Linked DNA regions of Homo sapiens. The protein of the gene in region 2 purifies or fractionates together with the protein of the main gene of each other region. This does not show direct contact. Each region holds a gene or a part of one and is shown on either strand. Other genes may lie near its edges.

Region 1 (16,866 bases), on a different chromosome or scaffold from region 2:
GGAGCTTGTAGCCCACGTTCACTGCGCATCCCTTTAAACCAGTTCCGTCTGGGAATCAGCTGGGCCACACCTCAAACCAATTACATCAGAATCTCCAAGCAGGGGAGGGGGAAACTTAGATCACCTGTCTTTAAACCCCCCCAGGTGATTTCAGTATGTAGCCAGGGCTGGGAATCACTTGCTTCCAAAGAATACCAGTCAAGAGATTTTTCAGAACTTGCTTCGTCTTCTGAGTTGGAGCAATTGCACCTTTTATCTGGTTTTCATATGGCACAAGGCTTCCTTTGAAGTGCTGGGTCCTCAGCATCGCTCTGCACCTTCTGAGTGTAGCATGGAATTGGTTTTGAATTGGTTTCCGGTTTTGGGTTGAATTGCTTTCACCCGAGCTTCAGAGATGGGTCCTGACTAGTCTAAGCCAACCAGGGTAATGCTAGCTCAGTGACTGACCAGGTAGCTTTGGACTAAGCCCATCAGCTTAGTCGGATGTTCTGGAATGGTCCAGTTGGCTTAGAATTCAGGATTCTTTCTTAATACTGAATGAAGGGGAAACCTCTCAGGTTAGGTAAGTGGAAGGCACCCTATGAATACCGGGGTGCCTGCCTAGGATGAAGTGTCCCTGTGGGTGGCAGGATGGAGACAGAAAACCTGAATCCTTGGTGATGTCCCTGAGCAGCTTGCCCTCCCCAGACACAGCCAGTTGCCCCCTTGTCACCTTTATTAAGCACCGTCTGAGCTGGATTTCCCGTTACCTGCCAGTGAGAGTCCTAATTAATATAAAAGGGTCTGAGGTTGGGCAAAGCAAAGTGAGTAGTCACTGCTAAAGGAAGCAGAGTTCCCTGAGCAGCTCTTGGAGCCAGAGCCCAGGCTGGGCTTGAAGCCCATCTGTCAGCCCCTAGCTCAGCACTATCCGGCATGCTAGAGGTAGCAGAGTCATCCTGGGATAAGGCGGGTCTGGGCTGAGGCTCATTTTGGTGCTTATGGACCTGGGACCCTGCTCTGATTTTCCTTTTTTTTGAGACGGAATTTTGCTCTTGTTGCCCAGGCTAGAGTGCAATGACACGATCTTGGCTCACCACAACCTCTGCCTCCCCGGTTCAAGCGATTCTCCTGCCTCAGCCTCCTGAGTAGCTGGGATTACAGACATGTGTCACCATGCCCGGCTGAAGTTTTTTGTATTTTTAGTAGAGATGGGGGTTTCTCCATGTTGGTCAGGCTGGTCTCGAACTCTTGACCTCAGGTGAGCCACCTGCCTCAGCCTCCCAAAGTGCTGGCATTACAGGCATGAGCTACCACACCCGGCCGGATTTTCCTTTTTAATAGCGCAAGTCTCAGGCTTGCAGCCTCAGCATGCGATAACAGGTAGCAAAAATCTAATGTTTGTCTTGTATTTACTTTCATAGTCACTTTTATGGTCATCTGAATTTGTGGCAAATTATGGTGATTTTGCTTTTTGGTGACATCGTTTTCCTTTAAAAGGGGGAGTGAGGGTGAGGCATGGTGGCTCACACCTGTAATCCCAGTAGTCGGGAGGCTGAGGCAGGAGGATTGCCTGAGCCCAGCAGGTTGAGGCTGCAGAGCTGTAATCGTGCCACTGCACTCCAGCCTGTGTGACAAAGGAGACCCTGTCCCCCCAAAAAAGTGGTGGCGGGAGTTGAGACATACTAAGAACATAAAGCAGTTGTGAGGCAGATGTGGCACAACTGACAATGGTGGTGGAGTGTGAGTCAGTTTGGGGAACGCTGAGCCAGGGACTGAACACTGTGAGAATGGGGCTCACACATCTTTTCATTCATAGCAGCAGCCAACTTTCTTCCAAGGCCAGTCTCTATCCTAGGCCCAGGTGCATGGTGTGGCCGGAAATACCGGTGGCTGTGGACTCAGATATCCCATGTCCTAGTCAGCAGCTTCCCCTTTGCCAGCTGAGATGTCAGGACAAGTTAGCTTCTCTGCACCTCCATGTCAGCACCTGAAACCTGGAGTTCCTACTCCCAATACAAGGTTTGGGGGTTTTTGGAGGAGAGTGCGGAGGATTGGGGTTGGACGGTTTTGAGGACTCAAATACCTTGGATTCCAGTGCTTTACAATTAGTCCCAGAACTACACATCCGTTCTGAAAATACCCGTTGGTTAGCTGTGTATTCACGATGCCTAAGATTCAGGTGTTTTTAGGAACAATATTGTCCTTGTAGGGTGTAGCGGAGCCCCTTGTCCGGAGTCCTGTCCTTGGGGGAGAGGGTTCTAGTTGAGCTTCCCCAGGGGATGCTGATCCAGCTTTGCTGGCAGACGGAGTGGCAATGGCTAAGTCATGCCACTGTCTCTTCCTCCATCTCTCCAAGGCGGGATCTCTACTTTTGATTCCTAGACTGGCTACTTCATGTACACAGCTGTCACGTCCCACTGCAGTCTAGGATGGCAGCCAGTACAGCACTCACATCAAGTATATTGGAAAAGCCCTTTTACTTCTGCTTTATGGTTCCTAAAAGGTGCCTGCTCTGCTTATTAGAGTATCCATTTTGCTTCACTTATAGTAATAAGACATCATTAAAGGTACATAAATAAAATAAGGATTTTTTTTCTTTTTTTTTAAGACGGAGTTTCACTCGTCACCCAGGCTGGAGTGCAATGGCGTGATCTTGGCTCACTGCAACCTCCGCCTCCTGGGTTCAAGTGATTCTCCTGGCTTAGCCTCCTGAGTAGCTGGGATTACAGGCGCCCACCACCATGCCCGGCTAATTTTTGTATTTTTAGTAGAGACAGGGTTTCACCATGTAGGCCAGGCTGGTCTCCAACTCCTGACCTCAGGTGATCCACCTGCCTCAGCCTCCCAAAGTTCTGGGATTACAGGTGTCAGCCACCGCGCCCGGCCAAAATAAGGATTTTTAATTGCAAAAACCAGTTCAGGTTCGAATGGTCTTACACCTTAAGGTTAGGTGGTGTCCTGGATGGGGAAGGGGTTTGCATCACAGATCCATTAACGCTGTATGCTGAAAACACACACATGCAGCCAAACTCATTAAATAGCGTGGAAGATTTGTTCTGGAAATGACTAGGGACCTTCCTTCCCGCGTCCCCTCCTCTTGGTTGGACACTTTGAAATAATGACAAGAACTTTCGGGGGTGATTTTGACTATATGCAACTCTTATATGCTGACTTTAAAACACAACCCCCCCTATACTGTAGCTCCACTACATTCAAGTTACAGCGAGTAGTCCGTTACCGAAGTGGTACAAGTTGGTGGGAAGCAGGATGCAAAGAATTAGCAAATGGGGACCTTGCTTTGGTCAAGCTTTCAAGCCAACTTTGCAGCAGATGGGAGAAATGCCTTTTATTTTCAAACCTGTCAAGTTTGTATCAGCTAAGATGTTTTTCTTCTAGATTACCTCATGGTGACCCACTGATAATTGGTATGTTGGAATGCCATTTCCTAATGGTGGGAGCAGCCTCTTCATTTCTAGTCTTCTGGAAGCTTTTGAGATGTTCCTCCATGACATTTTGGTGAAACATGCCTCAACTGGCACCTAATTATTGCTCAGCAGGGGGGCTGGAAGGGTCACAACAGGCAGAAAAACAAAACAAAACGCTGCCTGATACTCTGCAAAATCCACGTGTTCAACATGTTCTACTTAATTTCATTAGGGAAAGAAAATTTCCATCAAGCTAAATGGTTCTCAAATGTTAGTGGCATAGAACCATGTAGAGATGGATGGGCGTGGTGGTTCACGCCTGTAATCCCGGCACTTTGAAAGGCTGAGGCGGGTCGATCACAAGGTCAGGAGATGGAGACCATTCCGGCTAACACGGTGAAACCCTGTCTCTACTAAAAATACAAAAAAAAAAAAAAAAAAAATTATCCAGGCATGGGGGCACGTGCCTGTAGTCCCGGCAGTACTTGGGAAGGTGAGGCAGGAGAATGGCTTGAACCCAGGAGGCGGAGGTTGCAGTGAGCTGAGATGGCGCCACTGCACTCCAGCCTGGGCAGCAGAGCAAGACTCCATCTCAAAAACAAACAAACAAAAAAACGAACCACCTAGTGATAATTCTTGAGTCTCATCTCGAGGACTCAGTACTAGTAGTCTGAGGTCTAAGTAGTAAAGGAACTACACTTCTGTATGGTAGTACTTATTTGGCAATAAGCAGGTTTGTTTCTAGCGTGAAGCATCTCAGATGGGAAACTCCCATCTTTAATACATCGCAGTTTTCAAATTTGGCACTCATTTTGTTCATGCCAGAAATGGATGTTACAAAGGAGTAGGCATTGGGATCAAACTGACATACAACTCTAGAGCGATATGAGGCATAGATACCCTTTCTGCTTGAATTGCAAGAGGGAATGAAGCTGTTTGATAAAGATTCTCCTCTCCCTATACAATGACAAGGAACCAAAGATAGGATGAGAAAATGCTCTATGTGATGAACAGGGAAAGAAGCCACAGTCCTAGCTTGTCTGAGTGAACTCATTCCCACGAGAAAACCTGCAGGGCCAAAAACACGCCTCCCCACCCCCTTCCCCCGACACCCACAAAAACAAAACACACCAAACCTCTGTAGGATACTTAGGTTTTCTCATGTTAGAAGTGTTCAGCCTACATTTACAGGCATTCTCTAATTAGGTGGCAGCACGTTGCCATAGCCAACGATCTCCAGATTATTTGAAAAGCAAACAGTAGCAACAATATTCTTTTAAAATGGCTTTTATTGAGACACTTGTAGGGATTCTGCAACATTTCCAGTTGGGAATCTTTATTTCCAACTCTTAGGGTGGCTAAACCCTTTTCTGAATGCCAAAAGGCACACTCTCACCACCTTAATGAGGAAACACACTTATCTGTGTCTGTTCCGATATCCAACTGGGACCTGGACCCCAAGCCCCGTGGTGTCTTGTACAAGTCTCATTAGTCCTCCACGTACAACTCAGAAGCCTGTTAATCAGGGAGGGTAATTTCCAAATAAATGTGAGCTGGCCTAAATCCAGCTGGTTATTTCTGATTTGGTAATCTGTAGTATCTTAATTTGGGGACATCCTGTCCTAAGTTTTGGCTGGTGCATGTAGAACTTATAATCTACCTGTATAACAACAGATGCAACATAGCTCCGTTCCAGCCCCAAATTCCTTAAAGGTTCTAGTCTACTCTTGCACTTCTTCCTGTACTGTTGTTGAGAAGCTTACATTTTAGGGAGAGGCTGGTCAAATCTCTACTCTCTGGTAACAGCATTAACAAGAGTCTTTCTTTTGGAAACAGACTCAGAAGTTATGGACATCAGCCACTTCAGACTTCTTTAGGCCACTATCCTTGAGGTGACTGACCAGCCTCCTCATGGATTGGAGTTTCCCATCATTGTTTTAATTGCTGGAAATGTTGGCCTAATTCTGCTTCCTTGTAACTTTCTGCTTTTTAGTACAAGTTCTCTTGGGAATCTACGCATGGTAAAAATACCAGCTCCTTCCATCTTTACAGCCCTGTCAGTGCTGTGCTCTTCAAAGCCTTTCCCTTAATAGCAAGAGGGCCAAGAGTGGCAAATAGAGGCAGAGCCGCCTGCACTACAGTTGTTCCCATCGTAAGGTGAAAACGAACGTTTAACTTCATCTAGAAGAAAAAACAAACAAAAAACCCATCAGGCTATTAAGATTCTGCTTGCAAATTAATGCCAATCCATGTTTACATTTTTTTTTTTATCATTGAGACATTTACATATATATGCAGGCTCTGCTCCTTAACAAAAGGTGAACTGAAAAACTCAAGGGTGTTTGTTTTTCAGTTAAAAAAAAAAAAAAAAAAAAAAAAAAAAAAGAAAAACAGATTTTGTACCAGGTGCCTCAAGAGAAAGCATTCTATTTGCAGATGACAGATCTTGGGTTTTCCACAAGTTTCCTCTGTGACTGTGGCTGCCATCTCTGATGAAAGAGTTATGGCATTAAATGGCAAAAGATATAATGGACACACAGGACTGTCATGTGTAATAAAGCAAATATTTACATTAAGCACAATACAGCAATTTATTTAGATGCTTAAAATGAATACAAAGGGAAAATAAAGATCACAAAATTATACATACTACAACAGTGTGTCATATATTAGATGGTATAAATGAATCCACCATGATGGTGTTGAACTAAAGATAAAACTAAATATCCAAAATGCAGCACTCATTGGTTTGCTGCTTCAACACAACACACTTTTATACAGATCTAAAAGGTGTCAAAATTAGTAGCTGCAAAGTCAATTCTTGCATGTGATTTTAGCTTAAAAGATTTCAGAAAACAGATCTGAAATACCAGTTTTTGTTTTTGACAGCTGTAATGTCAAGGATATTCAGAACAAGAAAAATCCTATAATACAAGAGAGTCCAGATATATATCTTACGTGGCTGGCCTCTGTTGCAAGATTGTACAAGGTTATGTGCAAAAACTAAGTCTGTCCAAAAAGTCCATACTAGCGCAGTTTTGAGCTTTTGCTAGGTAAACTAGATAGAGCGTTTATTACACAGCAAGGGCAACACTAAAAAAAGAAATCTATGATGGGCACACAGTAACAGGATCATGAGCATCACTTGAATAGGTCTAAAAGACTGTACAAATATACATTTCAACTATTCAGAATGAATACATGAAAAAAAATCGCTTTTCCCAAAGTCTACTATACACATTAGACTGGTAGCTTGTATGTTGGCCCTACACTACCATGTGAATTAGTTTAACACTTCTCAAAGACATCTGACCAATCATTTCACAGAGGGAAAGAAATGTTGAAAAGGCAGATAAAATAAACCTCTGCTTTTCCTCGTGTGTATTCATGAGTCACCAGCTTATTGGTTTTTCACATTTAGTTACCGTGTCTGTCAGAGAAGGTTCTGAAGCAAGAACAGCCTGTCCTGTCATAGACTTAGAAATAACCACTGGAACTGCAGCGGCCACATGCCCCACAGTCCAACCAGTACTCACAAGGCAGTACCAGTGAGAAGACAGCTTTGCAGTCACACTGGATATCAGAGTTCCAGGCTGCAGCATGTCACCAACGCCAGGGAACCTGGCACTTAGGCCTGTTGGCTGCTCAGTTTAACTCCGGCTAAGCTGCCATGCATGGGCTCAGCTACTCCATCAGTCATGTTGTCAAACTGTTCCCCATCCTCACTGTCAATTGTGCTATTCTGCCACTCAATCTGGGGGTTAGATAAGCGCTCATCATTCTCAGATGCATTCTTCCACTGTGACTGGTCCTTAGACCAAAACCCTTCAACTTTTCCATAGGAACTATTCTTCCATTTCAACTGCTCTCTGTCACCTTGCATGGTAGCCTTTTTTTTGGCAGCTGGCTTACTGCTCCTTGCATCTTCGCTTTGGGAAGACTCGTCAGACCAGGTTCCTGGTTTCATTTCGCAGGTATTGTCCTCAAAGTCTGACACTTGTTGGGATCCAGGCCCACTCTCAGATGGAGAAGCACCGTCTTTCCACTCAACAACATCGTCTTGGTCAACCTCACTATCAGATGCATTGTGCATTAGTTTGGTTGGTTCCTCAGTCAAATGAATAGTTTCGTATTTTGAACCATCCTCTTTTTGGTCTAGCTTCTCCTCAGATTCTGAAGCATCCTCAGGAATTACCTTCAGTACATGTTCCTCTGGGTTATCGTTAGAGATTTTAGGTTCAACTTCAAAAACAGGGTCAAAAGGGCTACCACTTTCATTGGATTCTTCTTCCAAATTTTCAAAACTGTCTGAGGAACTGTCATCTTCCTTCCCAAGGTTGAGCTTTTTGTCAGCAGTCTTACTAGCATTGACTCTGGAATCCTTCTCATCATGATTTTCAAATAGCCACTCAGCATCAAAATCCATCTCATGCTTGACTTTATTTAATTCTTTCATGTTAAACCCCAGCAACACGCCAGGCTTGTACTTTTCACAATCACGGACACACTTCTTCCTTTTGTTACTAAAATGGGAAGCGATGTCACTCTTCCATAACCATAAACTGGCTGCTAGCTTCTCAATTTCTCTCCTGGTGGGATAGGGCTGTTTGTTGAAATACTTTGTTAGAAAGCTTTTCCTGGCTTCATAGGAATCATCTTCATGACCCTTGGGGTCTAAAGCTAAAACAACAGGCTCTTCAGGCTTCTCTTCAAAGAAGCTGGGTGAATCACTATCATCATCTAACTTTCGTTTTTTCAGTAAGGGAAATTCCATTTGCTCGTAAGTGCGCTTCACAGGTGCCAGACTTGGAGACTGATTAAGCCGAGAGGGTGCATTTGTCTTATCCTGGCCATTTTGGGTCTTTCCAACGCCCCTGCAGTGAACTAGATGCAGAGTGATAGTTGAGGCGGTCATGTTGCTGGTATACACACCAAGGCAATGGATACATTTGTAGGTGAGCTTTTTCTCAACTGGATGAACCGTCTGAATAACTTGGTGCCTCTCTCGTAAGTGATGTGCAAGTGCATCAGATATGGGTCCTTTTAGGATTGAAAAGCAAAGAGGACAAAGGGTTTTCCCAACATCTTTTTTATAGGGCACTGCAGCTTGAGGTGAACTTTTTACAGGGATATCTGCCTTTTCCTGAACCTTTGGCTGTGGCTTTGGAGGAACTGGAGGATTATTTTGGGCATGGTAAGCAACAGATTCAGCTGGGGCATCCCTCAGATTGTATGTAGTTACCAGGAGATGGATGTTAGTGTGACTACCCTGCTGCAATGTCAAATCAAAACTCAAAGTAGAATCTGTTTTAGGTCCCATCTCTTCATCAATGTGAACCATCCGCATGTGTGCGGCCATCTTTTCCACATCATTGAAAGTTGAACGGCAATATGGACAAGACAGACCATGAATTAACATATGGTTGAGCAGAGTATCTGTGGGTAAATAGCGATTACAGTAGAGGCATTTGCTAGTAAAATTGTGTATTTTCATAATGTAGTTGGCTACTGCTGGGACTTTCTCAGCTTTATGTTCTTTTTCGAAGTGCACACTATAGACATTTTCAGGAAAAAGCTCATTACAGATTGTACATATTTTCCACTTTTGAGTTGAGGAAGTGTTACCTGGGGGAGGGCCTGTGGCAGCTGCAGCAGGTTTGGAACTGGACTGACCTAACACTCTGGATGCCTGTGACTGAGAGAGGGAAGGAGACTTTAACTGGCCCGATGAGAGAGAAGAGGCATTAGCAGACTGCAGGGAGTATCTTGCTGGTGCCTGGGACCTCTGCTCTGACCCAAGCCCATAAGACCTTCCGTTTCCACTTGGAAGTAACTGCTTTACAGACTGAGATTGTTGAGGAATGGAAACTGGTGCGTTGCCACCTAGACCCAGTCTCATTGACTGACCAACACTGTAACCCTGGCCTACAGATTTGACTCCATAGTTGTTCTGCTGCAGATGAACACTGGACATCATGTTGACTCCTGTAGAATTTAAGTTAGGCTTTGGTATTGAGAGTCGATTCACCATCTGCTGTGATGGTAAAGACCGGACATTTCCAGAAGCAAGGGAACCGATCCTTGGTGGGAGTCCCATGCTCTTCTTGTCTTGAGGTTTGGGAGCAATTAGCATCAAGGGTTTGGATCGGGGAACCACTACATTTGTGTGCCCAATCATGGCAGTGACCTGATAGCCTATACGTTCATGGTCTTCGATGACATGCTGTACCAAAGCTTCATAGGACTTTGGCATGAAAAGGCATCGCTTGCAGTGAATACTACTCTCTTCTCGGGCATTCGAGCCTAAGGGGACTGCCCCATTGAGTGATTTTTCTCCTGCCTTTGCTATGTAAGGTGCTGCCACATGCTGAAAATGTTCCCTGTAAATGTGCTTCCTAACTATTTCATAAAGAGGATCTCGGTAAGTGCACTTCTTACAGTAATAAACAGCTTGCTCTACACTGTCAGCCTGCTTAGGTTTAAGGCCATCATTTTTGTTTTTATCTTTGAAAGTGCTGAGGCTGCTACTTGGTGCGCTGGCGTTCGGAGCATGAAATATTTTAATGTGTGTTTCCAAAGTCTTTTTGTCTGCATTGAAGGTACAGTAGGGGCAATTAAGGAGAATCCTATTTTCAAAGTCTTCACTATGGACATTGCGGAAATGACTTTTGTAGGCAGAGAAGAATTTTGAGGAAAATGGACAAGCGCTGCAGCAGAAAGGTTTTGTCCGATAGTCCTAAAGTAAACACAAAAACTAGAATTAGAATGCCACTTCAGATAGGCAGTTAACAGATTCCAGATCCCCCCCGGATATTCTTAATAATGCATTGATTTTAGGCCGCGCGTGGTGGCTCACGCCTGTAATCCCAGCACTTTGGGAGGCTGAGGTGGGTGGATCACCCAAGGTCAGGAGTTCAAGAGCAGCCTGGCCAACATGGTGAAACCCCATCTCAACTAAAAATACAAAAAAATAAGCTGAGCGTGGTGGTGGGCGCCTGTAATCCCAGCTACTTCAGGAGGGTGAGGCAGGAGAATCGCCTGAAGCTGGGAGGTGGAGGTTGCAACGAGCCGAGATCGGCCATTGCACTCCAGCCTGGGCGACAAGAGCGAAACTGTCTCAAAAAAAAGCACTGATTTTAGTATGTTTTCCCCTTTTGTATAGTAACTTTATAAAATAGAAACTCAAAAAAAAAGCTATCTTAAACCAAATATTTTTGTCAGTGTAAATTAAAAAAATGCTAAGTTCTTTCTCAATGTTTAGGGAAAAAAAGTCACATTTTAGCTAAACCAAAGACAAATGACTTGAAGATAAACATTTTGCAGCTAGAAATAACAAGAATAACCTAAATGAAGGAAGTTACTAAAGACTTCAGGTTTACTATACAGTCATGTGTTGCTAAACCACAGGGATGCATTCTGAAAAATGTATCATGGTGTGAAATCCTCAAGTGTGTATTCACACAGACCTAGATGGTAGAACCTACTACACGCCTAGGCTACATGGCATAGCTTATTGCTCTTAGGCTACAAACCTGTACAGCATGTTTCTGTACTGATTACCATAGGCAATGATTAACACAATGGTAAATATTTGTATGTTTAAACATAGCTGAGCACAGAAAAGGTACAGTAAAAATACAATGTAAAAGATAAATGATACCATGAACAAAGCTTACAGGACTAGAAGTTACTCTGGGTGAGTCAATATGAAAGCCTGGGACATTACTGTACACTACTGTAGACTTTATGAACACTTAGGCTACACAAGTTTTACTAAAAAAAAAATTTTGAGACAAAGTCTCACTTTGTTGCTCAGGCTGGAGTGCAGTGGCACAATCGGCTCACTGCAGCCTCAACCTCTTGGGCTCATGCGATCCTCCCACCTCCGCCTCAGTCCTGGGGACTACAGGTGTGTGCCACCACACTAGGGTAAATTTTGTAGAGACAGGGTCTCCCTCTGTTGCCCAGGCTGGCCTTGAACTCCTGGGCTCGAGCAATCCTCCCGCTTTGGCTTCCCAAAGTGCTGGGATTGCAAGCCGCTGTGCCGAGCCCTAAAAAATATTTTTTCTTCAATAATAACCTCAGCTTGCTGTGGTTTATACACTTTTAAATTTTTAACTTTTTGACTCTTTTGTAGTAATACTTAGCTTAAAACACAAACAGATTGGCCAGGCACAGTGGCTCACACCTGTAATCTCAGCACTTTGGGAGGCCCAGGCGGGTGGATCACCTGAGGTCAAGAGCTTGAGACCAGCCTGACCAACATGGTGAAACCCTACCTTTACTGAAAATAAAAAAAATAGCTGCACATGGTGGCAGGCACCTGTAATCCCAGCTACTCGGGAGGCTGAGGCAGGAGAATCACTTGAATCCAGGAGGCAGAGGTTGCAGTGAGCCAAGATCACAGCACAGCACTCTAGCCTGGGCAACACAGCGAGACTCCGTCTCAGAAACAAACAAAAACCCCCAAAACAAACACATTGTACAGCCGTACAAAAATATTTTCTATCTTCATATGCCTATTCTATAAGCTTAAAAAAATTTGTTTTAAAAAAAAACTTTCCCAGCACTTTGGGAGGCCAAGGCAGGTGGATCACAAGGACAGGAGTTCGACACCAGCCTGGCCAACATGGTGAAACCTCATCTCTACTAAAAATACAAAAAATTAACCGGACGTGGTGGCAGGCGCCTCTAATTCCAGCTACTCAGGAGACTGAGGTTGCAGTGAGCTGAGATCGTGCCATTGCACTCCAGCCTGGGCGACAAGAGCAAGACCCCGTCTCAAAAAAAAACCAAAAACTTTAAAAACATTTTTTTTCTTAAAAGCTAAGACACAAACGCATACGTTAGTCTAGGCCTACAGAGAGTCAGAATCAACAGTATCACTATCTTCCACCTTTACATCTTGTCCCACTGGAGGGTCTTCAGGAACAGTAACACACATGGAACTGCCATCTCCCATGGTAACAATGCCTTCTTCTGGATAACTGCAGAAGGACCTGCCTTAGGCTTTTCTTGAGGAGGTCTCACACTTACCAAGAATAAGCCCACGGTGCTTTGTTTCCTTTTTTCATCATAGATTTGATTGTAAGCAGATAATGAACCATGAATATTCTTCTCTATTAATAAAAACCTTTTGGTATTGAGATCCATGTTTTCAAACTTTTTTGTTGTTGTTTGAGATGCAGTTTTTTTGCTCTTGTCACCCAAGCTGGAGTGCAATGGCACAATCTCGGCTCACTGCAACCTGCACTTCCCGGGTTCAAGCGATTCTCCTGCCTCAGCCTCGTGGCTGGGATTACAGGCGCCCCACCACCACGCCCGGCTAATTTTTTTGTATTTTTAGTAGAGACGGGGTTTCACCATGTCGGCCAGGCTGGTCTTGAACTCCTGACCTCAGATGATCCACCAGCCTCGGCCTCCCAAAATGCTGGGATTACAGGCGTGAGCCACCAAGCCCGGCCACGTGTTTTCAGACTTAAGGAGCTTGCTGAGGTCTGCACTGCTAAATCCTTCACTGAATTTTCTTGAGGGTTCTTCTTTTGCTTTTCCTGCAGTTTCCTTTTCTCTTTCCTCTTCACCTATGCGGGAACTTGTTCTAGTTCCCACAGCTCCTCACCAGTCAATTCCTCAGGAATCACCTCTAGGAGCTCCTGTTGTCCTCATCCACACCCCGGTTAAAGTTGTTTGCCATCTCAATCACAGACTTTGTGATTTATGCAAATCCTTTTAAGTCATGGACAAACCTCTTGAGTGTATTCTTCCAGATGCCATTCATACACTCCTTGATGACATCAACCCAAGCCCAAGCAAGATTCTTAATGCAGTCACAGATATTGCAATCCTTCCAGAATTGTATCAGAATCTTCTCAGTGTCTCCCTAAGCTGCGACGACAGGACAAAGGCCTTTCTCAGATAGTACGCCTTAAAAGCTGCTGTAACTCCATCAGTTGGATCAAAGAGGTGGTGTTTGATACTGGGATGAAAAACACCACTTAAAGGAGGCATTTGCTTATCAGCGACAATAAGCAAAAGCTTGAAGGGTATGTTATTCTCTCAATACTACTTCTCCACTTCGCAGGCATATCTATTCAGGAGGGCATCTTGAAAGAGGAGCAGGGTCACCCACGACTTCTTATATCTCCTGCAGTGCACTGGCCAAGTGTGTGTGTATTGATATGCTTGAAGCCCCTAGGGTTCTCAACATGCCAAATCACAAAGGGTTTCAATTTGTGGCCTGCAACATTGCCCCCAAGCAAGACTGTCATCCAGTCCTTAAAAGACTTGAAGCCTGGCATTGCTTTGGTCTACCTCATGGATCAAAGTCCTTTCAGGCATCTGTTTCCAGAATAGAAAGGTTTCATCCATATTGAAAATTTGTTCTGGCAAGTGATTTTCCTCCAGACTCAGCTTATCTAGAGTTTCCCAAAATTCTTCCGCTGCCTTTACATCAGCACTCACAAACTCACCACTTTCCCATTATGTAATGAATAACGATTCTTGAATTGTTTACACCACCCAGAACTAGCAGTCAATTCAACATCACAGCCAGGTCCAGCCTTTTCTTTCAACACCTCAAACACACTTTTTGCTTTGGGATCATCATGGTGCTGAGAGGTACACAGCACCGTGTGCACCTGTGTCTGCTCTTCAATCCAGGTCATCAGAAGCTTGTGTGTGTCTGATAAAGGCCCTTCTTGAATTTTTGTTAGTCTCATTGCCTTCAATGAAGCAGATGCTTTAACAGCTTCTGTCACTTTGTTCTTGTTCTTCAAGATCATAGCTATGGTAAAATGGGACAAGCCTGACTGGCAAGAAATAACCATCACTGATTCTCCACCTTCGTAGTCCTTAATCACTTCTGTTTCCAGGTCAATCACTCAACATGGCCCCTTACTGGCAACATTATGGATTTTGTATGCTTAGGGGCCATGATGAACAAAATACCATGAGATTAAACCATGCACAAGAATGATGCAATCAAGAGACACAGTGAACACAAGCTGTATGAGGCTGCTACCAGTTACCATGAAAAGCTGTTTTAAAAAGTAGGAGTACACTCTAAAATAAAAAGTATATATAGTAAATACATAAACTGGCAATACGGTTTTTAACTGTCATTATCAGGAAGTCATGTGCTGATGTTTTCTGTCTAGTACAGACTGCATATGGGACTATGTTCCCCCAAGATTATAACGGGGCTGAAAAATTTCTGTCACCTAGTATTTACTATACAGTTGACTCTTCAACAACATAGGTTTGAACTGCTTATATGTGGATTTTTTCCAAACAAATGTAGATCAAAGATACAGTATTCTTGGGATGCTCAAACCCTCTTATACAGAGGGCTAGCTTTTGGTATATGCAGGTTCTCCAGGGCCAACTGTGGGACTTAAGTATGCAAGGATTTTGGTAATGAGGTTTTTTTTTTTTTTTTGAGATGAAGTCTTGCTTTTGTCCCCCAGGCTGGAGTGCGATGGCACGATCTCAGCTCACTGCAACCTCCACCTCCCAGGTTCAAGCGATTCTCCTGCCTTCCCCGCTCCCACTTCCAACCTCCAGTAGCTGGGATTACAGGCATCTGCCACCACACCTGGCGAATTTTCGTATTTTTAGTAGAGAGGGGGTTTCACCATGTTGGCCAGGCTGGTCTCGAACTCCTGACCTCAGGCGATCCACCTGCCTCGGCCTCCCAAAGTGCTGGGATTATAGGCATGAGCCCAGCGCCCGGCCGGTAATGAGTTTTTAATCATTATTTGAGTGTACCACTTACTTCTATATTTTTTAAAAAAAAGTTAACTCTAAAACAGCCTCAGCCAGATCCTTCAGGAGGTATCTAGAAGACGACACTGCCATCACAGGAAATGATGGCTCCATGCGTGTTACTGCTCCTGAAAACCTTCCAGTGAGACAAGCTGTGAAGGTGGCAATGGTAATACCATTGATCTTGACCCTGTGTAGGCCTAGGCTAATTATGTCTGTGTCTTAGTTTTTAACAACAGTTTAAAAAGTTAAAAAAAAAAAAAAAGTTTAAGACTAGGAAAAAGCCTGTAAGCATATGAAGACAAAATATTTTTATACAGCTGTACAATTTTTTTTTTTTTTTTTTTTGGAGCGGTAGCAAGATTCATTATGAAGAGTGAAAGGACAAAGCTTCCGCAGTGTGGAAGGGGACCCGGGCAGGTTGCCGTGTTTGTGTTTTAAGCTAAGTGTTATTACAAAAGATTCAGAAGTTAAGAATTTTAAAGTTTTACTTTTTATGTAGCCTAAGTGTGTTTATAAAGTCTACAGTGATGTACAATAATGTCCCTTCATATTCAGTCACCACTCAGAGCAACTTCCAGTCCCGCAAGTGCCCAATATAGGTGTACCAATTTTTCTTTTATATTGCATTTTTACTGTACCTTTTCTATGCTTCACTATGTTTAGAAACACAAATACTTACCATTGTGTTAATCACTCTTATAGTATTCAGTATATAGTATTCTCTTATAGTAACATGCCATACAAGTTTGTAGCCTAGGAGCAACAGGCCATACCATATAGCGTAGGGGTAATAGGAGGCTATACCACCTAGGTCTGTGTAAGTACCCTTTATGATGTTTGTACAACAATGACATCACCTAACAGGGCATTTCTCAGAATGCATCCCATCATTAAGCAATGCACGACGGTATTATACGCTGTAAATAACTGTATGTGCTATACTTCTATGACTGGCAGCACAGGTGTGTTTACATTAGTATCACTACAAACATGAATCATATGTTGCGCTATGATGTCATAAGGTAGCAAGTTTTTCAGCTCAATTATATTCTTATGGGACCACTGTCGTAGATGTAGTTCATCACTGACCAAAATGTCGTTATGTGGTGAATGACTGCGGTAAAATTCAGGGCCCACGATGTTTTAGTGCAATTAGACAATTACAAGAGATAAAGCTATATCTTTTATTCCTTTCCTCATTATGGATAAATTTTCATAGAAAAAAGGCAAATCTCCATTTTTTCCTCTGATTAAAGTACAGTGTAGTATCAGATTCAGCGCTGATCAAAAGAAAGACTGATTTGAAAAGTTGGCTTTCTTCTATAAGCCTTGCTGTTCCTTCTCAACCAAGAACACTTCAAAAGAGCTAATGAAGTAATAGCTGCTTTGATTCAAATCAAGAAGTTAAATAAAAATGTCCTACAGACTGTGAGGAGGGTGAGGTATTTAAAAGCCAATAATACATTATAGAATATACTGATATCAAAGAGCAACTTTCAGAATTATGATTGTTAACACCTATGCAGTCAGTCCTTTGATGAAGGCAGGTGAACTGACATGCTTGGTAAGAGATTATCTTTTCTCCCTAGAAACCTACTTGTTTCAGATACTGGTTTGAACCATGATGAAATACTCTGCTTCTCCTCAAAGCTCAACTCTTCTTTAGTATTCAGCTATGAGGCTTTCAGATTGATAA
Region 2 (16,866 bases):
AAGGAGGGAGAATTCAACAATATAAAATATAAATTAGATCAAAAAAGACAAGAAATAATAATAAAAAAAGGCCTTATTATTTGTCCACTGGTGAGTCTAAGAACATTTCACTGGAATGCTAAGTATGAAAGCCAGTAAAAAGAAGTTTTAAGAACAGATTAATGAAAAAGGGGGGTTGAAAAATCAAAGATATGTTTGAAAAACCATGAACAATAGAGGAGAAACAGAATGGTAGTTGGAAATGGGCAATGAGGATGAAAGCATTTCACATTTTATGCTGTAGATGAACTTACTATTGTCATCCTAACTGACCATCTGCCTGGCCTGGTACATGGATATTTCATTTCCCTCCACAATTCTACTTTCCCTTTGGCAGTTTGGAGAAAAATATATTTGAATTTATTATTGCTTTATCCTCCCAATTACTCTGTTAAATATGTTTTGTTTGCACAATTTAGCTTTGTAGTACTACAAAGCATCAACACTTAAAAATGATATAATTGTAACCCCAAAAAGCATTTTCCACCAATTTTCCAGTAATTGTAATGTATTTGCACTCTACTGCACATTCTTTTCCCCAGTACCTCTCATGACAAGCGCTACATATTTTTAAAAAGCTGGTTAGAATTACCATGTTCATTATACACACCTTAGCACAGTAGTCAGAACAGGCTCTAGAATCAAACTGTGTGGGTCAGAATCAGTTTTATCACATACTGGCTGGGTGATATTGGTCAGCTCACTCAACTAAGCCTCCGTTTCCTCATTTATAAAATGGGGGATAAAATAATACCTATTGATATGGTTTGGCTGTGTCCCATCCAAATCTCATCTTGAATTGTAGCTCCCACAATTCCCACGTGTCGTGGGTGGGACCAAGTGGGAGGTAATTGAATCACGGGGGCAGAACTTTCCTGTGCTGTTCTTGTGATAGTGAATAAGTCTCACAAGATCGGACGGTTTTATAAAGAGTTCCCCTGCACAAGTTCTCTCTTTGCCTGCTGCCATCCATGTATAAGACATGATTTGCTCCTCCTTGCCTTCCACCATGATTGTGAGGCGTCCCCAGCCATGTGGAACTGAGTCCATTAAACCTCTTTCCTTTATAAATTACCCAGTGTCAGGTATGTCTTTAATAGCAGCATGAGAACAGACTAATACATTTATCATGAGCCTGAGAAAGGCATAACAGGGTTGGGCACATAGTAAGTGCTCAATAAACGTCGGCTATTATTATTTGGAGACTCAGAACCAAGAGTAAAGTTAACTGCTCTGTTTGGGAATCAACCACCATATTCTAGCACTGCACCTTGCTCCATGGAGAAAATCTCTGAAACCTAACATGCCTCTCCCAGGGCTATGTTGGATGGCATTAGAGTTATGAAAGAACCACCTTATCATGTCAGTTCCTAAAATGAGAAGCTTAGGATGGGAGGAGAAAGTACTGATGAATAGTTCATTTCAGATGAACATAAAGATAGAATCTATAGGATAAAGGAGCTTAATGAATGCCATTCACAGTTAAGAGCTCAAAATGTCATACAGCCTAGTCAATAATATTCTATGCTAAGAGTGTGAACTTGAGACAAAGAATGATTTCTAGTGATGTCCTCAAAGAATCCACAGCCTTTTTCTATTGTCTTATACCATTTGGCTAATTCTGTATATGTGCTGTATCAGCTTTGATAATTCTTTCAAGACACAGTCTTTTCTCACACCCAATATAACACTAATTTTTCTAGTCATATTATTTTCTCCAAATTTATGCCACATGCTTAGTAATTCTGAGATTTAAGTAATCTGGCTACATATTACTCTTAATACTGACACATAAAGAGACTTTAGCTAGTACATCTGTATACATTTCAATGTGTTGCTCTGGTCTATGGCCATACCACCCTGAATGCACCCAATTTTGTTAATATGTTGCATTGCTAAAAGGACTTTTTATTGGAATAGAAGAGAAGCGTTCTTCTAAAGTGTATGGCAGGTGTGTGTGTGTGTGTACATACACATGTGTACATACACATATATTTTCCCTCTGACAATGCACCCATCATATGTAATATTTGCATACAAGGTAATACTGGCCCCAGGAAGAATCAGTATCTTACAGAGGGTAAGGCACAACTGAAACACAGAGCAAAGATCTAGATACAACCAGATTTACTTGTTTCTGGTTTCTTAAAATTTCAAGTACAAAGAAACTAGGAATGGTAACTTATAAATAAAAGAAACAAGAGAAGGGAGGATAAGAAAATAAAGGATAATCGAAAGGACTGTTGGAAACCAACATGACAAGTGATGGGTGTCTTCATTCACCAATGGCTCAATGAAATTGATGTAGATAATTCTGATGTTGTTAGTGGTCAAAGTGGGCCATAGAGAGGCAGAGAAGGAATGTTATAGGGAAAGAATTTATGATCCAAAAGGTGGTCCTCTATGACGTAAGACTTTGATTGCTTTTTTTGGCCCATCAATCATAAAATGATTATTATTTCTTTTCAGGATAGTCACAGGGTGAAATTATGAAGCTTTCATCAGAACCTATATAATTTTTTTTCTGAATAGGCTCAATGTAATCAATTTTAAGTTTAAAGGTTAATTTTGGAAAGCCCAAAATTTCTCAATTCCAACTCTGGTGAATAAGTGGCTACTCAAATGGTAAAACTAAAGTGTAAGAGTAATAGAGGGTTTTCTCATATGGTTTATTAAATGGGAATTCTAAGAGTGTTCCAAATATTTGGAAGAATATAGTAGTATGGAATAATAGTACTTGGGAATAACAAGTGACAACCCACATTGGATGCGTAAGTTCTGGCATGTTACTTTAAACCAGTCTCATTACTTTATATAGTATTCCTTGGTATAACAAAAGCCTCAAAGATGAAATATAGTGCCTGGTGATACTGAGTTTAAGAGTACATCTTTGTTGGTAGATTATAGACATGGATTACAGATGGAGTGCACCAGAGTTCAAAAGAATGAAAACCTGTGAGGTAAGGTATTAGATTACCACTGTGGATATTAAAGTCATATAAACTAATGGCAAGAAACAGATGGAGAATAACGAGTGAGGTGCTGAGGCCATCTAAAGAGATGGGTGCAAGGTAATGATAGGAGTGACAGACCATCTAGTCAGGGAGTTTGCACAGGCTGTTAAGAACCTGAGAAAGCAGTATTGTAATGGGCCAAAAAAGATGAGTATACATTCTTTGTAAGGTTTTTATCTTCCTAAAGCATCTTCGTCTCCTTCTCCTACCTGATGCCATAACTAGGATAGTGCCAACTATCTGTACCACAGTGTACAGTGGGGAGGTGGAAGGAGAGTCAGAAGTCACCAAAATGTATAACTATCCAAGCTCAAGAGCAGCTGGGCTGAGTCTCCACTCACCTCTTTCTCTGTATTACTCCCATAACCATTACTAATGTGTCCACTTTCTTTACTGACACAGGTGCTGGGACTGGGGGTGGTGAAGGATATGTACAGATGCTCAATGACTCAATGGAGTCAGTGAAGGTGATACATGAAGAAAAATGCTGGAGTGCTGTTAAAAATATAGCATTCTGAGTTTGTATGGGAATACAAATTTCCACTGACTAGAAGGAATATTAGAATAAAAAAATGCACACTTAAGCATAAATACTTTAAGTGTCTGTAAAATTTTCCTAGAAAGCTACATACAAATATAAGTTTCACACAGAAGCTACTTCTGACTCTACAGCAGCTTCTTAGATCAGATTAGGAATACAAGGGCACCTTCAAGGGAATAAATGGGAGAGGGGGATCACAGGAGATGGGAAGAAGCACAGGAACTAGGAGTAGCCAGCCTCTCTCAAACCTATAGCTACTCACCCAAAAGACAAAGTTAAGCTCTTCAAGCCATGACAAGCAACTTGCTCTAATGCTATTTTAAATTTCTAAAGGATACATTAGGTCATCAGGAGCTCCATCAGATACTTTCAAAGACAGTCAAGCTAATCAACCTTCACCAAGGCACTGGGCCCAAATTACTAAAGAGCTATCCTAACTTTGCCACCACTATAGATTCTGACACTAAAGTTGTGATGACCTTTCTGCCTTTTAGTACACTGAAAGACCTCTCACCAGTGTGTGGTTTCCCTAATGCTGAATAATGCTCAAACTCTAACTGATGTTGTTCCTAAACGCTTATGGATTCAGATTTTTCACCACTGTGGATTCTCTGATGTCGAATGAGACTTGACCTCTGAATAAAGGCTTTCCCACACTCATTACATTGGTAGGGCTTCTCCCCTGTGTGAATTCTCAGGTGTTGAATGAGACCAGTGTTCCCATTGAAAGCTTTCCCACATTCTTTACATTTATAGGGTCTTTCTCCAGTGTGGATTCTCTGATGTTCAATAAGGCCTGACTTCTGACTGAAGGCCCTCCCACACTCATTGCATTTGTAGGGTTTCTCCCCAGTGTGGCTCCTCTGATGACCAATAAGATGTGAGCTCCGCCTGAAGGTTTTCCCACACTCATCACACTCATAGGGCTTCTCCCCAGTGTGGATTCTCTGATGTCCAATGAGGTGTGAGCTATGACTGAAAGCTTTCCCACACTCATTACATTCATAGGGTCTCTCTCCACTGTGGATTCTCTGGTGCAGAATAAGGCCCGCACTCTGACTGAAAGCCTTCCCACACTGATTGCACTGATATGGCTTCTCCCCAGTGTGGATTCTCTGGTGCAGAATCAGGCCTGTGTTCTGACTGAAGGCTTTGCCACACTCCTTACAGTGATAGCGTTTTACTTTGTTGTGGATATCCTGATGTGAAAGAAGGGCTGACCTGTAACTGAAGGCTTTACCACACACATTACACTGATAGGGTTTCTCCCCAGTGTGGATTCTCCAGTGGCGAACAAGGCCTGAGCTCTGAGCAAAGCTTTTCCCACATTCATCACATTTATGTCGTCTCTCTTGTGTGGGATTTCCCCGCTGCCTCTCTAATCTGCCCAGAAGGTCTCGGGCTTCTTCATGCTCAAGACCCCTGATAACATCCCCGTTGCATTTGGCAGCTGTCTCTCCATGTGGCTGGATTCCAGTAGATATTACCTGTTTTGAAGCTAATTCCCTGTTCTCACTCCTGGTCTCACCACCTGAAATAAAAATGTAATAAACAAACATCAAGCCAATGTCACAACCTATTCTTTATGCTAGGAGAAAGGAACTGAAGATAGGGGAAAAGGAAAGTACACATGAACAGCTATAAGTAAACACAAAACTTCTGTCTCCAAAATAGCTTCTTAATAGTGACCTTGCTTAATATGAGCTAGTCAACTGGGAAAGAGGTACCATTAAAAAAAGAGAGTTAATTGGAAGGGGAACTAAAGTCAGGAAAGGATGAACTGAAGTGAGGTGAAAGTTGGGGAGAGGAATATGGAACTACTAAAAGAACTAATGAGCAGGACAGAAATGGGAAAATGCCCAGTCATCAAAAGGGAGGAGATACAATTAATTTATGTGAGAAAAATATATGTAGGAATCCCATGACAACTTGGAGAAGAAATATATGAACTCAGAGAGCACCTCTGAGATGTCAATTTCCAACTGGCAAAAACGCCAGTACCCTGGTACAAAATGTAAGGAAGTTCTGGACAGGAGAACAAAAGTTTCACGTAAGATTTCAAGAAATCTCAACATCATATCCCTCTGCTGGATCCTGAGTTAAACTTAACTATGTCTTTCAGAAAGGCTGTAGCTACTATACACATAAACAACAAACAAACAAAAAATCTAAAATGACAATAATAACCACACCTCTCCTTACCCAGGGAGAACATGTTTCTGAAATTTTCTGGCCTGTTATCTCTACACAGATCCTTCTGTGATGGATCAAGAAGCCACTCCTCTCGAATAAGGGACACAGCCATGTCTTCAATCTTCTCCAAAGTCTGAAACAAAACAAGATCCCCATTTGGGGACTGGGACTGTTCCACAGCTCAAACCTATAGAGCTTGAGAGATCCACCAGTATTGGGAGAGAATTACAACTTGGGAATGTACTATGTAAAGGGATCTGAATAGCTAGGAAGAAGAGGAAAATGCATGAGATTTACTGGGGGAAATTCAGGATCAATCTGTCCCTAGGCAAAAGAATTTTTGGGACAACTTTTTGGGTAGGTACTGCTACAAACTAGACAGTCAAGATATAGGGCAGATGCCACAAACACTGACAAGCACAGCTATGGCGTTTCAGTGAGAAGGAGCACAACTCACCTGGAACCCTGCTGTGAGAAGTGTAGCTGTCATTTCCTGGTCTCCAGAACTTCCTTTCTGGGAACGAGTAGGACTCTGGGAAGTAGACATGGCTGAGAGGAGAAAGGAGCTATGAATGAGACCAGTCCTGTCCTGTGGTTGTGGGAGCTGGCACTCACCCATTCCAAATTATTTTTATTTCAGCAGATATACATGTATGCCAAAGATTTTGCACATGAAGTGCTGATATCTTGGATTCTGGGGCCATATCTATGGCTGCCCCACAAAACATACGCACCCCGATGTCCCTGAAGTCAGACTGAAGTTACACTCAAAAATAGAAAGTATACTGGTTTCCTAACAGGAATCGCTTTTCAATTTCTTCTCTACCATCAAAACTACTTCTGTCTTTGTGGCTGTATACAGTATTTCCTTAGGTCCTAATCTCTTGGCAAACCAAGTATCAGAATCAACCAGTCTCTATTAATTAATTACCTTTCTGAAATGTCTACTATGGCTCCCAGTATTTGCTTTCTATAGATATTAAACGGCTTATTATTAAAATATAGATTACTGTATCTCAGGTAACAAGCTTTAGGACTTTAGACAAGAAGTATTAAGTGTTTTAATGCTTCTTTAGAAATATTAAAAATTCATATTTATAAACTACTCTAAATCACATTAATGAAAAAATATGAAATGCAGGGGAAGATGAGACTGGAACACCTCATTCTGCAATAAAGTAAAAAAATTCTCAAAAAAACAATGGGAAAATGTCAAGAGGATACAAGAGCCAGACTGAAGGGGCCTTCTATGGCCAAATCTGAGATGATTTAGCAAAATAAAGACAGTGGCCGAGCACAGTGGCTCATGGCTGTAATCCCAGCACTTTGGGAGGCTGAAGTGGGCAGATCGCTTGAGGCTAGGAGTTCGAGACCAGCCTGGCCAACACAGTGAAACCTCGTCTCTACAAAAATACAAAAATTAGCCAGGCATGGTGGCGTGCACCTGTAATCCCAGCTACTGGGGAAGCTGAGGATTAAGAATCGCTGGAACCCGGGAGGCAGAAGCTGCAGTGAGCTGAGATCGTGCCACTGTACTCCAGCCTGGATGACAGAGTGAGACTCTGTCTCAAAGACAAAACAAAAACAAAATAAAGACAGTAACAGAATATTTATGGAATAAATACGAATTTGAGTCCATACTGATAAATAAAAAATAATAAAATTGGGAGAAGGGAGCACTCTCCTTTACAATAAAGAAATGTAGAAGGAATGACAGAGTTAGAAAATCACTATTTCATAACCATTCTAGTAATCACTAAGTCAGTCAAGAAGTACCAATGAACACTAAAACTAGTGTTTTAGCAACAAAGTTTAATGAGGACTAAGATATTTAAATACACTCAAGAGTATCTTCCACAAATTACTTATTAGTTACAAAGGGAAAAATAGTAACTATACAATGATTAACCCTGCAAGAATAACCTTAACCAAGTCATCAAAGATAACACCACCAATAATAGGACAAATTCCTGTTGTACCCCTAAGAAGGAGTACAACATCTCTTGTTAAGATTTAGGTCATGTATCCTTGGCAGGGTGAGGTGTTCCTGCCAAATATATATGACCTCAATGTAAACATGATCAAACATCACGCAAATCCAAACTGCAGCCATTCTACAAAATAACACACCTGTACTCTTCAAAAAAAAAGAAAGGTTGAGGAACTATTCCAAAGTAAAGGAGACTAAACAGCCATGACAACTAACCACAAAGTGTGACGCCAGACTAGACTCTGAACCAGAAAGAACATAATTGGGGCAACTGTCAAAATATGAACTATGGCCTAGGTTAGTATTGTAGCAATACTACATTTCTTAATTGTGATAAATTTAGGAATTTATTTATTTAAGTTACCTAAGAAATGCTCGTCTGAGGAAATACATACTGAAATATTTCCAAATAAAGTGGCATGACAATACCAGCATAACCTCAAAAATGTATGTTGTAAATGTACTGTGGTAACAGAAATATGGCACATGTATACATATGTAACTAACCTGCACAATGTGCACATGTACCCTAAAACTTAAAGTATAATAATAAAAGGAAAAAAAATTAAAAAAAAAAAAGTCAAATTATTTAATTTGTTCATGAGTTTACCACTAGAAAGAATAATCTATATTTGAAGCCTAAACATTTAAACACAGACTTTGGGACTGGTCTGTAAACAGGATTTTAGTTCCTGGTTCTTCAGGAACTAGATAGGTATCCCAAATGGACTTTTATTTGTACTTCCCCCCCTTATCATCAATGAAATCTGGCTACTCACCTCTCTCTTGTGACTCTTGGGGCACTGGAGATTTATGTTGGGTTGCCTCAGATTGGAGCTGAGTATTTGGAGGCTCTGGTGCAGATGCTGAATGTACTACCTCCTCCCAGAGTACCCTATGTCCATGTACGCGAGCTGAGACCTGGAAACAACAGACAGTTGGATAATAAGGAATCCCTTTGCGAAATGTAATGAACAATGAAAGAGGACCACGAACACATCTACAGGGATATATGCTTGGGGAAGGAAGCAGCAGAATCTTCCTCACTTCTTAGGGACAGTAAGGAACACGAATACGTAATGAGCACAGAAAGAAAGGCATCATTTTTGCTTAGTACTAAAGGAAAAGATTTCTGCTGATGCCTTCCCTGTTACACAGAACACCAATATTTTGTACTCCTAAGGCAGAGGAAGGAGGAAAACAACAAACTTAAAGCAGTGCTATGCAGTAGAAAAATCTTTTAATAAGGAACTAGAAAGCCTGATTTCTGGTCTCAAATTTACCTTTAATTATTTGGATACCCCTGAAAAATTAACTTAAGCTTCCTATGCATCAAGTTCCCATCTGGCAAACAAGAACAATACAGTCGTAGGGATGTTATGACGACAAAAACAAAATGGATTTATATCCTTTACAAAAGTAAAAAGAACTCTACAAGTCATACTACACTAAAACTATTGTCATCCTTATCCAACAGAAACTGATGCTAAGCATCTGCTCTCCCACTGTGATGCCTATGTCCCTCTACCAAGCTTCCAGGACTCCCACAGTCATAGCACGCATACCTCCTTCTACTTACTGGTCGTCCTAGTATATCAATCTGCCTTTCCAAATCCTCTAATAGGGTCACCACCTCCTCTCCGTTCTCTAGCTGATGTTCCTTAACCAGTGTCTGGAGCTCCTCAGGTAGGATGGTCAAGAACTGCTCCAGCACCAGCAGCTCCAGGATCTGTTCCTTGGTGTTCAAATCTGGCCTCAGCCACTGATGGCAAAGGGCCCGTAGTTGGATCAGAGCTTCTCGGGGTCCTAGTGTCTCCTGGTAGCGTAACTGCCTGAAGCGCAGGCGGAACACTTCTTGGCCAAGAGGGTTACTTTCATGCAGACTAGATTCCTGGTCCCAACCATGATCCTCCTCTACCTTGACGATTACAAGATCCTCTTCAGGAGTCTGGTCTGGTGGGGATGGGGCTGAAGGCTTTCTTGATTCTTCAGCCATTAGAGCCTGAAAAGCTCAGGAAGTTCGTTTCCACTACCTTCTTTATCTTCTTAAGAGAAGACTCTTCTGAGGGCCTCTTTCTAAGGGTACTTCTTCATGAAGAAAATATGATAGTGTTAAGGCAAGTCAAAAGTCATTGTAACTAACTATGGTATCTTAACAAGTTCCTTAGTATGACACGGACTTCATGGCTCGGCCAATTAAATGATCCTCCCCACTGTTCCAGAAATAACTTCTTACTTCCTTAACTTTCTGTCATGCCAGCCATGCCAAACCCATCCATAGAAAAACCCCTTCCTTCTGCTTTCATCACCCTGTTTGGGGATGTGGAACATGGCTAAGCAAAGTCAGGAAACCATGTAGACTGGGTCTAGTTGAAATTTTGTGTTTAATCTCAGCTGGCCTTCAGGGCTGCTCATTTAACCCCTTTTAGTCTTTGATACACCAGCTGTACTAATCTGGTTCTACACGCTTCAGCTCTCAACCTTTCCCTTACTCTTAACAGATGAGACTAATTTCTACATAATCTAATTCAAGGTATTGTCAAAAACTTTCCTAACACTTTGCTCTTCTCCACCTAACATTCCTTATCCTACCTGTGCCCCTCATCTTTCCTCCTATCTCAAGGTTAACTTCCTCTACTATGGACGTGACCTCCAACTCAGAAACTCTCTATGGAGCACTCCAAGGAACCTGGATGCCCTATTGACAACTACAACCCAAAAGTCTACTCCCACACTCAAAAGGCTACATACTATATGATTTTATTTATGTGAGATTCTGGAGTGGGAATGTTTAAATGTTTATCCATTTCCCAGTTGAACAATATCTGAGTTGTTTTTGTTTTTTAATCACTATGAATAAAGCCACTATGAACATCTGCATGAGTTTTGGTGTGAATATAGTTTTCATTTTATTTGGGCAAATATTCAGAGGTAAAATTGCTGTGTCATAAAATACATATATGTATAACTTTATAAGAAACTGCAAAACTGTTTTCCAATCTGACTAGCACTTGATATTGTTTTTGTTTTTAATTTTAGATATTCTAATAGGTGTATGTGTAGTGGCAACTCATTATGGTTTTAATATCTCATATGGCTTTAGTATGCATTTCTCTACTGACTAATAATGTTGAGCATCTTTTTATGTGCTTATTTAACATCTATATATCTTCTTTAGTGAAGTATTTGTTCAAAACTTCTGCCCATTTTTAAATTTAGTTATTTTAAAATTAAGTTTTGAGTTTCTTACATCCTCTGGACACAAGTCCTTTATGAGATATGTAATTTGCAAGTATTCCCTCTTTTTCATCCTTTTCATAGGGCCTTTTGAAGAAAAAAAGTTCATTTTTTTAATTGACTGTGCTTTTGATGTCATATCTAAGAAATCTTTGCTTAATCCAAGGTTACAAATATTTTCTCCTGTTTTTTACTAAAAGTTTTATAGTTTTAGGTTTTACATTTAGGCCTATGATCCATTTTGAGTTAATTTTTATATAGAATTTGAGGTATGGATGGAGGTTCATTTTAAGGATTCTCCTTTATCTACTTAACTGTCTTTGTATATTTGTCAAATATCAGTTCACTATATGTATGTATATGTAAGGGTCTATTTCTGGAATCTCTGTTCTGTTTATTGACCTATACATCTATTCTTTCACCAATACAGAATAGTCTTGATTGTGTAACTTTTAAAATCTTGAAATCAAGTAGGTGGGTCTTGCAACTTTGTTGTTCGTTTTCAAAATTATTTTCACTTTCCTAGTTCTGTTGTCTTTTGATACACATTTTAGAATCAGTGTATTAATTTCTACAAAAAATTATTGAATTGGATTTGTATTGAATCCATAGCTCATTTTAGGGACAACTGATATCTCAACAACAGTGAGTTTTCCATTCCGTGAACACAATGTGTCTCTCCGTTGAAGTCTTCTTTGACTTCTTTCATCAGTACCGACACTACTTTCTTAAAGGACAAGATAAAATACTGTTGCCTTTAAAAATCCTTTCCTGGTGACTCCAATTGGAAATTATTTTCCTCTCATTCTATACCTCTGTTACTTAAATGTGTATTGCTTTAATGTTACTTTTCCCATAACTGTATATTTATTAGTTCCAAAGGAATTCTGACTTCAAAACTTAATTGTATTTTCCCCATGGGCAAAGGTCCATATCTTTTATCTTATTGATAGAATCGAAGAACATTAGCCATATTTACAATTGCAAACACAGAACATGTTTATATTTCTTGTAAGAGTGAGATTTAGAAACAAGACCTGATGTCCGAAAAAAGTTCAATTTCATGATCCTATTTCTTTGTGAAATATATGTCTATGGTTTCCATCCTTGGTATAGACATCATCTCTTGCCTAGAACTGCAATGGTAACTTTGGTTATGCTTTTTTCCCATTCATGTTCCACAATATTGCCTACTGTGTGTTGAAATGTGTCCCTCAAAAAGATATGCGGACATTCTAACCTCTAGTACCTGTGGATGTGACCTTATTTGGAAATGGGGCTTTGCAGATGTAATCAAGTTAAGATGAAGTTATACTGGAATGGGTAGGCCATTAAACCAATATGACTGGCACACTTTTAAAAGGAAAAAAGACACAGAGACAGACTCTGAGAAAGGAGAAGGTCATGTGAAGACACACACACACAGATGAATGAGAGCTAAGTGACTACAGAAGCAGAGATGGAGTTGTGCAGCTGCAAGCCAAGGAATGCCAAAGTTTGTCAGTAAAAACAAGAAGCTAGAAGAGCATGGGTCTGGCGACACTCTGATTTTGGACATCTAGCCTTCCTAATTATGAGACAGTAAGTGTCTATTCTATTAAACTACCAGGTTTATGATACTTTTTTTTTTTACAGTAGCCCTGTACTGCCAGAGATTTTTTAAAAATATGTAATATGACTAACATGACTCACCTCCTGAAAATATTTCAATAGGGACCAAATTTTTTAGCATGGTATGCAAGGCCCTTTATGAATGTAAACCTGGCTGGCTATATCTACTTTAAACTCACTTACATAAAGCCTTTCTGGGCTGTGGCTTTCTCATACTTCCATTCTACTACAGAGTTCTTTACTCTAGCTCAGTGGTTCAAAACTGATGGCAATATTGTCCTTACCCCCATCCCAGGGACCTTTCATAATGTCTGTAAATATTTTTGTTGTCACAACTTGGGGGTAAGGGGTGCTACTATTATCTTGTACATAGAGGCCAGGGATCCTACAATGCTCAACACAGCCCCCACCACAAAGAATTATTTGGCCCAAAGTGTCAATGCCAAGGTTGATAAATCTTGGTCCAGCTAAAACCATTCAACTCTTTTTTTTTTTGTTTGAGATGGAGTCTTGCTCTGTCGCCCAGGCTGGAGTGCAGTGGCGCGAACTCGGCTCACTGCAACCTCCGCCTCCCGGGTTCACGCCATTCTCCTGCCTCGGCCTCCCGAGTAGCTGGGACTACAGGCGCCCTCCACCACACCCGGCTAATTTTTTGTATTTTTAGTAGAGATGGGGTTTCACTGTGTTAGCCAGGATGGTCTCGATCTCCTGACCTCGTGATCTGCCCGCCTCGGCCTCCCAAAGTGCTGGGATTACAGGCGTAAGCCACTGTGCCCGGCCTAAAATCATTCAACTCTTAACTCTAATTTATCTATTACCTTTTTCATGAGTTCTTCTCTGTCATCCCCCTGCCATTTGTCATTCCTACCAAAGCATTTTTAACATGGTCCAAATATAGGACTTATCACATTGTGAGAATGTGGCCATGGCCTTATTGCAAATGTTTGTTGACAGAGGTGACCATTATCTTTGTATTTCAAAGATACTGTAGAGAATGAAGAAGAGTGTAAGTAAAGGTAGCATACCCTAAACCAGTTGTCATGAGATGCTAACATCAAGATAAAACCAGAGACCTATAGTCCACAAAGAAGAGATAGGTACTTAGGAAAAAAATCAGATTACTGTACATACAGTTCCCCATACGGATCATCAAGGCAGTGCTTATCTTTTCAGTTTTTGGAGTTGTGGCACGGGGCGAGGGGGGTTGGTTTATAGACTCTTCAACCTAAAGAAAACACAGAACTTCTTTCCAGCAAAATGTCCACAGATACAAAATTGTATACTCAATTTCGGCAGAGTTCACAGACTCAAAGGCCATCCAAGAATGCCAGGAAGGTTAAAAACAAACAAACATACAAACAAATCCTACATAGAGAGTGTGTACAGAAAAGAAAGGGAATTTGAAAATTATTTTTCAAGTTAGACAAGGCCGGGAACAACAGGGTGGAGAGTAAACTACAGATCAGAAGAACCAAGGAGCAAAAGATATGGTTAAATATATCAATTAACATTGGGGGTATAGTTCATTGATTATGACTTTACAGGAAAGTGGAGGAATTTGCTAGAATAGTGAGATTTGGGGGAAGAGTGAATTTGAGGAAGATGCTGAGATTTTGTTGAGAAAGGGTAATCAATTTGGTTTTGACAATTTGTTTTTGTTTGAATAAATTATCTATAATTTTAAGATAATTTATTTTAAAATGGTCTTAGCTAATTTTAAAATAATTTAATTTTTCAAATCAAAACAAACTCTTAAATTTTCTTAAAATAGCTACTTATGGTTTAATGTTAAAAACTTAAAGGTCAATACATGGGACATAAATTCTGTTTAGAATGTGATGTTATATAGTGGTAGTCTTACCATGTTTTCTTATAAATTTCCTTAAAGCCAAGGTTCATTTTTAACTACTGAACAACTGGCCATCTATTACTGAGCAATCCTCATCCATAATGGCTATAAAATATTATTATTATTATTTAGGGACAGGGTCTCACTATGTTGCTCAGGCTTGAGTGCAGAGTCTATTCACAGGTGCAATCCCACTACTTACCAGTACAGGAGGCTATAAAATATTTTAATGTGAAGTGCGCAGCATTCAAGAACTTTATATTGTTGATGTGGTATTAAAAAGTCTCAATAACAACACTGATGAAAACCAGCTAATTATCAGGTTTGTTCATTTTTTATACCAAATCAGCCAACAGGTCTTGCCCATTGCTCATCTTGATTATTCTATTTAGTGGCTAATTTTCCATTTTTTTAAGTCTCTTCCCTCTCTGATCAGCTGGTTTTTGAGAATTACAACCTATAAATAACTGAGTGCAAAATTACTCCAGTATGTACCTTCCTCTCAGTTTTGTGCGTACATGTCTGTATTAAGTTGGTGAGCACTTTGTGGATACAGACTGATTTTTACATAGTCTCCTTAAAGAACACCTAGTCAAGTTTACATGAGTTTAAAAGGCAATCTTTAAAGCTTCCTCTGGATTTTAAATACTGTAATCCTGTGAGATGCTGAAGGCACAACTCAATTTTAACAGTATTATTTTTTCAATAGTTGTGGAAGGAATGTATTCTTCCTTCAGACTATGTCTAATTTGAGAAATGTTTGGGAACTGAAAACAAAACAAAAAAGACATTTTCCAGGATTTAAAATCCAAGAAAAAGTAGGTGAAGCCAATACTATGCTTTGTTATCTCAAATTGCATTAGCTGAAAGTTTTAATTAACATCTATCACATTTTACATTTAAACAACAGAAATTCAAAACATGTATGTATTTGCTAAAACAATGATTGCTACGTAAATATACTCAACGGAACTAACAAACAACAGAAATATGTTTTTAAAGGTGGTGGTGGCAGTCAAAGTAGCCTGACAAAAATTACTCATGACTAACCAGAGTTTTGGAAATGGGGCCCTCCCAGAGTTCCTCGTTGGCTAACTTCAGTTTGCTTTAACAAATGAAATAGGCATTCTGATAATGTTGAATTCTGAATTACCCTGAAATTAAAAAAAAAAAAAAACTTTCGTACAATTATCTAGTCAACACACCACCAGTTTCTGAATACACTAAAGAAAGAAGAGTAACAGCAAAAATTGGTTTCCATGGATAAACGGGGCTTCCAAAAGCAAAATATGTCTTTTTTAAAAACTGAGAATTTTGTTGTGACCTAAACGCAAAAGAGCGCTAAGTGAAAACAATTCAGACTCTGGAAATAGTTGGATAAAAAATAACATGGGGGGGGCGTTCCCCATTTTAAGATAAACAAGATCGACTACAAAAACATACCACAACACGATTATCTATGAAGAAAGCTTCATAAAAGGTTCCCTCGCAAAAAGTTCAAGGGCAATTCGTGGGGACGTACTCTGCCTGCAACAGCAACTAAGGCGTCAGAATCGGTCCGCGGCGCCGAACACCGCACAGGCCCCTCTCCGGACCCCTCAGGCCAGTCCTCAGCTGCGGCCTGGACCAGCCACAAAGCACCCACTTTCCTCCGGCCCAGAGCCCGACCGTACTCACTGTGAGTTGCAGAGGCGCCCCGTCGTGGGGAAGGGAGGCTGCAACGGATAAACAGACTCGAAGGAAGGTCGGGGAGTAAAGGCGATGAAAGCTGTACTCGGACCAGGCCCCTCCGGCCACTAACTTCTAAATCTGCGGAGGCACAACACCGGCCAGCACGCATCTTGCCCCAAAGGCACTTCCGGAAGCTCTCTAGGAGTCCTGGAGGTCTACAAGCTCTATGGTCGGCCGACTGAGGGTACCGGAGTACCACGCCCCTCACCTGCTGTGTGCTGTGCCTCGGGTTCCTCCCGCGTCTGCGTGCCTCAGGCTTGCGCTGTCGCTGGGGCAGTGAACGTGCTGGGGAATAACGGACCTTGGTGTCCCCTCCGCCTTGTGTGCCCATGCAGCTCCGCGCGCTCGCTGTCAATAGTAACGGTCCCCTGGGGGTAGATATCGGACGTGGGGAGGCTGGAGCTGTGAATAGGAGGCTGGGAAAGTGTTGGAGGAGGGAGCACTTCATGGATCCTTAGGATTCCAACTGGATTCGCGTTTGGCTCCGTTACATACCCTGTACTTTACTGTTCTCGATTCATAAACATATCCAGACCTCTCACATAGAGTACAAACTTCATGAGGAATTCCTGCTAATCACAGTTCATAGTTTTGTGAAATCCCTATGGCATGGCACTTAGGAATAGCATATTTTATTAAGTATTCAAAAAAATCGTAATTA

The links.
Region 1: the proteins of ZKSCAN8 (region 2) and ADNP purify together in Homo sapiens (affinity purification with mass spectrometry; 2 studies listed by BioGRID and IntAct, with this or other methods). This does not show direct contact.

Annotation. Positions count from the first base shown.
Region 1 is NC_000020.11:50,884,373-50,901,238, forward strand, and holds the end of ADNP (activity-dependent neuroprotector homeobox protein), read right to left. Parts: intron 10,141-16,866; coding exon 7,033-10,140; 3' UTR 4,546-7,032; downstream 1-4,545.
Region 2 is NC_000006.12:28,141,315-28,158,180, reverse strand, and holds the start of ZKSCAN8 (zinc finger protein with KRAB and SCAN domains 8), read right to left. Parts: upstream 16,299-16,866; 5' UTR 16,152-16,298; intron 15,971-16,151; exon of another isoform or gene 15,918-15,970; intron 13,851-15,917; exon of another isoform or gene 13,757-13,850; intron 9,866-13,756; 5' UTR 9,774-9,865; coding exon 9,357-9,773; exon of another isoform or gene 9,343-9,356; intron 8,699-9,342; coding exon 8,557-8,698; intron 6,337-8,556; coding exon 6,245-6,336; intron 5,921-6,244; coding exon 5,797-5,920; intron 5,126-5,796; coding exon 4,164-5,125; 3' UTR 1-4,163. UniProt on the Homo sapiens protein: May be involved in transcriptional regulation.